Linked DNA regions of Homo sapiens: region 2 is linked to region 1. Evidence: fine-mapped expression QTL. A gene starts in region 1. The other region holds a variant in brackets. All regions are shown on one strand. Distances are from middle to middle. Region 1 holds the start of RNF181 (ring finger protein 181). Region 2 has its middle 6.0 kb from the start of GNLY.

Region 1 (4,528 bases):
GGTTCAAGCAATTCTCCTGCCTCAGCCTCCCAAGTAGCTGGGATTACAGGTGCCCACCATCACACCTGGCTAATTTTTGTATTTTTAGTAGAGACAAGGTTTCACCATGTTGGCCAAGCTGGTCTTGAACTCTTCACCTCAGGTGATCCACCTGCCTCGGCCTTCCGAAGTGCTAGAATTGCAGGCATGAGCCACCGCGCCTGGCCCAAAAAATTTTTCATAAGGCTCTCACCTTCAGATAAATGGTTTCCCCTCTGAACACTTCCCACTCCTCAATTTCTCTTTCCACATTCTATCTACCTCAAGCTTTACATCAGACTGCAGATGGGGGAAGTGACAGCAAGAGATGGGGACCTTAAAGCACTCCTTGGTATTCCCATCTCCCTCCCTCCCTTCCTTCCTTTTTCGACGGGGTCTCTCCTGTGTCTTCTCTCCCTCCCTCTTTCGACGGGGTCTATGTTGCCGAGGCTGGTCTCGAACTCCTGGGCTCAAGCAATTCTCTTGCCTTTAGTGCTGGGATTGCAGGCGTGAGCCACCATGTCCAGCCTGAATTCAGGCTTTTCAAAGCTACAGGGCCATATAGGCCAGGGAGGCAGTGCCTTCAGGGCCATAGCAAAGATCATTGGGCAAAGGCATGGAAGAAGGAAATAAAGCCACACCAAGACTGTGGAAACAGGGCAGCCTCTGCCTGGGCTACTTAGCTGCAGTTCAAACTCAGGTGTGAGTGGCAAGGGGAATTCAGGGTCAAGTGTGTAAAATAAGCAGTTCCTTGCTGGGTAAAGTGAGCGCTACTGACAGAAACCAGAATAAGCCTGAGTTGTGTGGAGCTTCACCCCTTACAGAGCGTGTTAGTTTTACTGAGCGCATTAGCGTCTTCCTCTCTTGGGAAAGATGGAGGAAAGCACTTGGCCCTGCAGCTGGTCTGCAACACCACTTACAGACTGCAAATTTGGGCAAGCCACTTCTGAGGTAAAAAGGGCATAATGACGCTTAGCTCCTGGGTCTATTGAGGGGATGATCGAGCGTGTAAAACATACATCAGACTAACAGTTCTAGATGCTAAATAGTACCTATCATCCAAATCATTGAGTGCAGTGGTTCTTAAACCTGCTTCACCTGCATAATTTATACAAGTGCCATTGCCCAGGCCCCACCACAGATCAGTTAAATCAGAATCTTCGAAGGTATCAGACACGGGTGTTTCTAAAGCTCCTCCGCGCCCATTCTCTCCTCTGGGAATTCATGTGTAGCCAGGAATGAAAAGGTCTTAGTACAAGCCAGCAGTTTTACAGAAGCTAGGGATAGCAACGGGCTGAAGGTAACAGTCCCATGAGCTGGTTGAGGCCCCAGGTTCTCCGGCAAAGAGATCTCTCTCAGTTGGGGAGGCTTGCCCCACCCTTTATTATTATGCCTAACACATAAGAAATGCGCAGGAATCAAACGCAAACTGGTGAACCAACTAGAGGGCCGCGGGGGCAGAAGTGTCCGGCGGGGATCCGGACAGCGCATCCGGAAGCGCCATGGGCCAACGCTCGCAGGAACCTGAACCCCTGGGCCAGCGCCGCCTTTGCTCGCAGAGGCCTCTAGCATCTGTACTGTCGAAGCCCTCTGAGCTTCAGGGCAGACTGAAGAGCCTTACACACCAGACACTTGGACGCGATCGCGCCAGAAATCCCCGGGAATTCAGTCTTGGCTCCGACTCCAAAACAAATGATTCCTCACCAGCCAGATCTCCATCATTGGCGTTAGTCTCTGGTCACCTGACTTGTTCAAGCCAATGAGAGGGGGCCGAATTAGTACTTCCGCTTTCCGTGCTGTTTAACGAGCCACTATGCCCGTCCCTCGGATACTCTGATTGGCCAGCCTCTCTCAGCTCGTCAGTTTATTGGCCAGCGCCGCTAGGCCGCTATCGAGCAGGGTCCGAGGGCTGTGTCAGAAGGCTGGGCAGCCATGGCGTCCTATTTCGATGAACACGACTGCGAGCCGTCGGACCCTGAGCAGGAGACGCGAACCAACATGCTGCTGGAGCTCGCAAGGTGGGTGCGCGGGGCTTGGGGATAGGGTCCAACCAGCAGGTTTCTGGGCTGGGGCTGGCTGGAGAAGGCGGATTACCAGGGGCAGCGGATTCTGGGGAGGACAGATGAGTAATCTGGAGTGTTAGTACGGGCGGCGAGACTGAGGGGTGTGGGGATGAGCATCTCGATAATTTGGGCCGTCCGTTGGGCCGGCCTGGGGCAAGGGGATTGCGGGAAAGATTGGAGCTGGAGAGTGGTGGGCGTGGGGGCGGAAGGACAGCAGGCTCTGGGAGGTCTCAGAGAAGGTGAGGCATGGGGGCGGGGTTGGGGCCGTGTGCTGTGAGTGGGTATATTCATCAGTAACAGCAGGCACTGCTGTTACTGGACCTGGAATCTGGCTTGGTCTTGGAATCTGGGCTCTACCAGGTTATTCAGCGTAGCCTGAGTAACTTCTCTGAATCTGTTGCCTCATGTGTAAAATGGGAATAAACACTTTACGTGCTGGGGCGGTCTGATAGCAGTTGTAAACTATTTCCCATCGTGCTTTTTATCTAGTGAGCATCTACTAACTACTAAGGGTAGCTATTATTCCTACTAGCTGGGCAGCGTGTTTATTAATGTCCAGTGGATTATGGGGACAAAGAAAAAGCATAGTTTTCCTTTGTTCTGACTTTACATCCCCTTCCCCAGGTCACTTTTCAATAGGATGGACTTTGAAGACTTGGGGTTGGTAGTAGATTGGGACCACCACCTGCCTCCACCAGCTGCCAAGACTGTGGTTGAGAACCTCCCCAGGACAGTCATCAGAGGCTCTCAGGCTGGTGAGGACACTGATTCTTTCTGCTATTTGGGCCAGACCCACCCCTTCCCCAAGCCAGACTGTGGTCTGGTCCTTCAGTTTTCCAGGTCAGGTGGGGGCAAGTGTCCTTCAGGAGTGGGAGCTTGGGAGGCAGAGCCTGTAGCAGCTCTCCTGATCAGCACTCCTTCCTAAAGAGCTCAAGTGCCCCGTGTGTCTTTTGGAATTTGAGGAGGAGGAGACTGCCATTGAGATGCCTTGCCATCACCTTTTCCATTCCAGCTGCATTCTGCCCTGGCTAAGCAAGGTACTGCTTCTCTTCTTCTAGCTCTCACCGTGCCCTGGGCCCAGTACTCAAGCTTCTTTCTGTTCATGGACTGCTGGGGGATGGAAGAAGAGTGGCAGTTGGGAGCAGGGGAGGGTGGTTATCAGCTTATGAAGATCAGACCAAGGCTAGAACACTACTCTACTTTTCTCAGACAAATTCCTGTCCCTTGTGCCGCTATGAGCTGCCCACTGATGACGACACTTATGAGGAGCACAGACGAGATAAGGTAGGGGCTGATGCTTAAGTGGAGGGGTCGTAATGGGCTCCCTGAGTCCTGTCCCCGCTGCCATCACTTCCCACCTCAGCAGGACTGGGTAGGCCTCAGAATCCCTGGCTCTGGCTGTCTTCTTAGTGACTTTGATTTGTGGTGAGAGCCTCAGCAATGCAGACGCCAGAGGCCTGAAAACAGAGCCAGCCCCATAATAGCTGCCCATCCCCTCACCCATAGGCCTTCAGTTTTGGCCCCTGCCCAGCATGCCTTCTTTCCTTCAGGCTCGAAAACAGCAGCAGCAACACCGACTGGAGAACCTCCATGGAGCCATGTACACGTGAGGAGGTTGGGGCTGAGTGCTGGCCCTCTGCGTCTTCCTTATTAACCTTGAATCCTCATTAAAGGTTTCTTTACCCACCCTGAGGCTGTATTGATCACAGACCTGGCCAGGGGCTCTGCATCCTCCATCAGGTCTCTACTTCTGTTGGGGAAGGTGATCCTAAATCGCAGAAGGCACCAGGCTGCGGTTTTCCTCCCTGCTGGCCCATCTGGACTCATGGCAGTGGTAAAGAACTGGATTACTGCAATAGCCAGGGCTTGGGCCTATGTGTTCATGGTTGGAAGGCAAAATGTGTCAGGGTCTGGTACCCAGTTAATTACTTAAAGCTGATAAACTAGGCTGGGTGCAGTGGCTCATGTCTGTAATGCCAGCAGTTTGGGAGGCCAAGACAGGTGGATCACGAGGTCAGGAGTTCGAGACCTTCCTGACCAACATGGTGAAACCCCGTTTCTACTAAAAATACAAACATTAGCTGGGCATGGTGGCACGCACCTGTAATCCCAGCTACTTGGGAGGCTGAGGCAGGAGAATTGCTTGAACCTGGGAGGCAGAAGTTGCAGTGAGCTGAGATCATGCCATTGCACTCTAGCCTGGGCAACAAGAGCAAAACTCCGTCTCAAAAAAAAAAAAAAAAAAAGCTGATAAACTAGCCTGCACCCTCCTCCCACTGCAATGTCTAGTTAACTTTGTAATCCCACAGGTTTTCTTTTTGCTCCATTGAGAAAGCCACTTTTAATATTTTAAAGTTGCTCTCTGTACCACCCCCACCTTCCCCCCATGCCTCCTAAGGAATCAAAGTTCAAACCAGACTCTGAGTGGGGGATGGGTGAGATTATCA
Region 2 (4,264 bases), 92 kb after region 1:
GAGGATCACGAGGTCAGGAGATCAAGACCTTCCTGGCTAACACGGTGAAACCCTGTCTCCACTAAAAATACAAAAAATTAGGTGGGCGTGGTGGCGGGCGCCTGTAGTCCCAGCTACTCGGGAGGCTGAGGCAGGAGAATGGCGTGAACCCGGGAGGCGGAGATTGCACCACTGCACTCCAGCCTGGGCGACAGAGCGAGACTCCGTCTCAAATAAAAAACAAAACAAAACAAAACAAAACAAAGAAAAAGGATGATTACTTGAAGTGGTACAAATGACAACCAGGTACCAAGAAAACAGTGAGTTTGGGCAAGTGTAATTTTTTAGAACTCACAGTATATCTAGAATGGGATGAAAGGGAAGAAGATATAGGATAGTCTCATTCATATAGAAAGTTATCCTAAAATCATGTAACAAAGAGGTTATAAAAACCATAAAATCATCACGAAAAATGACAGCCACTAGCCCTGAATGCTGATGTAGAAAGGACATTGATGAGAATAAACCTTCTGTGCCTTCAGGCTTTGGCAGATAGCTGGGTCTCCCAAAATGTAAGCAAGGACTGAAACGTAAATTGAAATTACTGCAAAGAAATAAAAATAATTTTGACGCTTAAGGGAAGCTTGCTTTTTGAGAAATTCAGGCAATCATCTATACAAACTATCAGGAAAACTGGATAATGCAAAAAGGCTTTAAGTAAAGGACATCATTTGAGTAAATAGGCAGATGTGGTATTTAGTAAACCTAGTGCCTGAAAGTACAGAATTTCTGAAATAGGAGATGATGGAAATGTTTACCAAAAGTACGAGATTGATGGATGCTGGTGAAATGTAAAAATATTCCATACAATTTCACAGGTGTATTTTCTTCTCATTCTTAGGGTGAGGCTATTTAATAATATTTTCCCAAGTGCAATCAGACAGTTAACATCTAGGGACTGCTTGTTTGCTGTGACTGGTGCTGAGAAGAGCAGTTCTCTAAATAAAGGGTCATCATTTTTTAAATTTCAGAAAGTCTGGTGAAACACATACCAAAAAATCTGCTTCACTTTATTTCCCATCATCTGCTTTCTCCCATAGGTCTTTTTTGGCTGATTATCTCCCTATTTTATTTCTGTTTTACTGCCTTTAATTATCTCATTTTGAGTCCCTGGCATTTTGTTTTGTTATATCAAAATGTCACGTGAATAGGCTCTGAGTCATTTGCGCAAGCTGGGGAGAAAGCGGAGAGGGATCTGCTCCCAGCTGGACATCCCTCTGAAGTCTCCTGCCCCCCGCTGACCCCCACCATCTCCCTGGCCACCCAGAATCATCACGGTCCGGGTCCTGGGTTGGCTGATGCTCAGCTCCCCTGCACTGGAAAACTCTTCCTAAAACTTTATTGAGAGAGAAAAAAGATGACTTGGAAAAAATAGAAAGTCATACTATGATCTGCTGGGCGCGGTGGCCACGCCTGTAATCCCAGCACTTCGGGAGGGCGAGGTGGGCAGATCACTTGAGGCCAGGAGTTTAAGACCAGCCTGGCCAACATGGTGAAAACCAGTCTCTACTAAAAATACAAAAATTAGCCAGGTGTGGTGGCGGGCGCCTGTAATCCCAGCTGCTCTGGAGGCTGAGGCAGGAGAATCAGTTGAACCTGGGAGGCAGAAGTTGCAGTGAGCCAAGATCACACCACTCACACCACTGCACTCCAGCCTGGGCAACACAGCCAGACCTGTCT[C/CA]AAAAAAAAAAAAAAAAAGTTATACTATGATCATGGCTGAAAGAGTGGCTATAAAGAAGTGAATTTTTTCCATATTAGTTTTTAGTTATAACAAAATTAAAAGTGAAAATTAGAATCTGATATACTATTGGTCAAAATAATTTATATTTAGCATTTAGTAGATATTTAATATTTAGTATATAAATATTATACCTTATATATACTTTTAGCATATAAAGTATTATAGTAAATAAAATATTACCCAATGTACAATTTAAAAGTAAAGGAATATCAAAGGAAAATATCAAGAAAACTGCAGGATTAGATAATGTGGTGTTAATAGAACACAAGATATTTGGGTCAATTAGACAGAATGGATAGGTCAGAATTTGATCCTATTACATATAATTGAATATACAATAAAAGAACCATTTCAGATCAATGGAGAGGAGGGGAAAGTATACAATCAATACCTTTACACTAAGGGAATAGCATTTTGAAAAGAATACATCCCACCTCATACCTCCCTAAAATCAATTCCAGAGGATTGAAGTGTCACATTAAAAAAAGTCTAACTGTAAAAATTAGCAAAAAAAATATTTTCTAGGGAAAAAGAGGCAATCACAACTTTCTAAACTGAGAAAATATGTCATAAATATACATATTTGATTATAGAAAATGAAAACTTTCTATGCATAAGAACCTTATGGAAATTTAAAGGTCAATCAAGAAGTGACAAAATATTTGTAGCAAATATATCAAAACATTAATGTATTTATTAGTAAAGAAGTCTTACAAATTGAAAAACATAGTAGAGTCCAGTAGATATTGGACAAGGGACATAAAAAGACAATTTCAAAATAAATGTAAATGTAAACAAATACCTGGGAAAATATTAAACTTAATTTGTAGTCATTGAAATGGAAATAAAAGTAGGTGTTAGTTTCACTCATTACATTTGCAAAATAAAGAGTGTGACAATATTCAATGCTGGTGAGAGTGCAGGGAACTCTCATACAATGTTGGCAATGTTGTAAATGGGTACAATCCTTTGGGGAAGTATTTGATATTGTTCATTGGGAGCCATAAAATTGTAACTTAAGAATCTTTTTTGTTCGGGCGTGGTGGCTCACACCTGTAATCCCAGCACTTTGGGAGGCTGAGGCGGGCGGATCACCTGAGGTCGGGAGTTCTAGACCAGCCTGACCAACATGGAGAAACCCCGTTTCTACTAAAAATACAAAATTAGCCAGGTATGGTGGCACACGCCTGTAATCCCAGCTACTCATGAGGCCAAGGCAGGAGAATAGCTTGAATACTGGAGGCGGAGGCTACGGTGAGCCAAGATCATGCCATTGCACTCCAGCCTGGGCAACAAGAGGGAATCTCCCTCTCAAAAATAATAATAATAATAATTTTTTGGATAATTTTTAAATTGAGGTATAATTTACATCTAGCAAAATGCTTAAGTCTTAAGTGTCCAGTTTGAAGAGTTTTGATAGATGCACACTCATGCAATTCACAAGCTAATTAAGATATAGAACACTTTCACTATCTAAAAAAAATACCCCTGTGCCAGCCCAATAACCCTCACATCCTCCTCCCACCTCCTACCATTTTTCTGATTTCTTTTGCCATAGATGAATTTTGCTGCTCAAGAACTTCATACAAATGGAATCATACAGAATGTAGTCTTTCGTGTCTGGCTTCTTTTTCCTTTTTTTTTTTTTTTTTTAAAGATTTATTCATTTTATTGCTTGTATTAGTAGTTCATTCCTTTTTATTGCCAAGTAGTTATGTATAATATTGTATGGCTCTACCTTAATTTCTTCATCCATTGACCTGTTGATGGACATTTGGGTTATGTCTAATTTTTGGCTGTTATGAAAAAGCTTCTGCAAACAATCTTTTATTTATTTATTTATTTATTCATTCATTCTTCCTTTTTTCATTTTCTTTGAACAACCTTTTAAAACAATTTTTTTCTATTGTGGTAAAATACATATAACATAAAACGTTTACCACAAAAAATGATAACGGAGGTGATAGATATGTTAATTACCTTGATTTAATCATTCCAAGTGGTATACATATATCAAAACATCACATTGTACTCCATAAATATATAAAATTATGATTTGTCAATTAAAAATAATATTAATAAAAATAAATGACAAAATTAGCCATTTTAACCATTTTAAATGTACAATCCAGTGGCATTAATTATACTCACAAGATTGTGGAATCATCTATTTGGAACTATCGATTTCCAAAACCATTCTCATCATCCCAAATGGAAAGTCTAACCAGTGGGCACTAAATCCTTCATTTCCCACTCCTTCCAGCCCTGGGTAACCTCTAATCTACTTTCTGTCCCTATGAATTTGTTTATTCTATAAATTTTATGTAAGTGGAATCATACAATGTTTATCCTTTTGTGTTTGGCTTACTTCGCTTGGCATAATTATTTCAAGGTTCATTCATGTTGTAGTATGTATCAGAACTGTGTTCCCTTTTTAGGCTGAATCATATTCCATTGTATATGTAGAGCACATTTTGTTTATGC

Evidence for each region. PIP is the estimated chance that this variant, and not a neighbour inherited with it, causes the effect. A credible set is the group of variants that fine-mapping cannot tell apart.
Region 2: its variant is the best candidate, but not a certain one, in a credible set for the expression of RNF181 in whole blood (INTERVAL, PIP 0.50).

Annotation. Positions count from the first base shown.
Region 1 is chr2:85,593,814-85,598,341 of GRCh38, forward strand. It overlaps RNF181 (ring finger protein 181), which reads left to right and starts at 1,932. Exons shown (of 5, transcript NM_016494.4): 1 at 1,932-2,036; 2 at 2,706-2,836; 3 at 3,009-3,118; 4 at 3,291-3,365; 5 at 3,632-3,895. The coding sequence starts at 1,951. The coding sequence ends at 3,691. RefSeq lists a silencer at 1,824-1,963.
Region 2 is chr2:85,686,197-85,690,460 of GRCh38, forward strand. It overlaps the pseudogene GPR160P1. Among named protein-coding and RNA genes, the nearest start is that of GNLY, 6.0 kb to the right of the region's middle. RefSeq lists an enhancer at 909-1,411. The variant C/CA (reference allele first, on the strand shown) is at 1,720.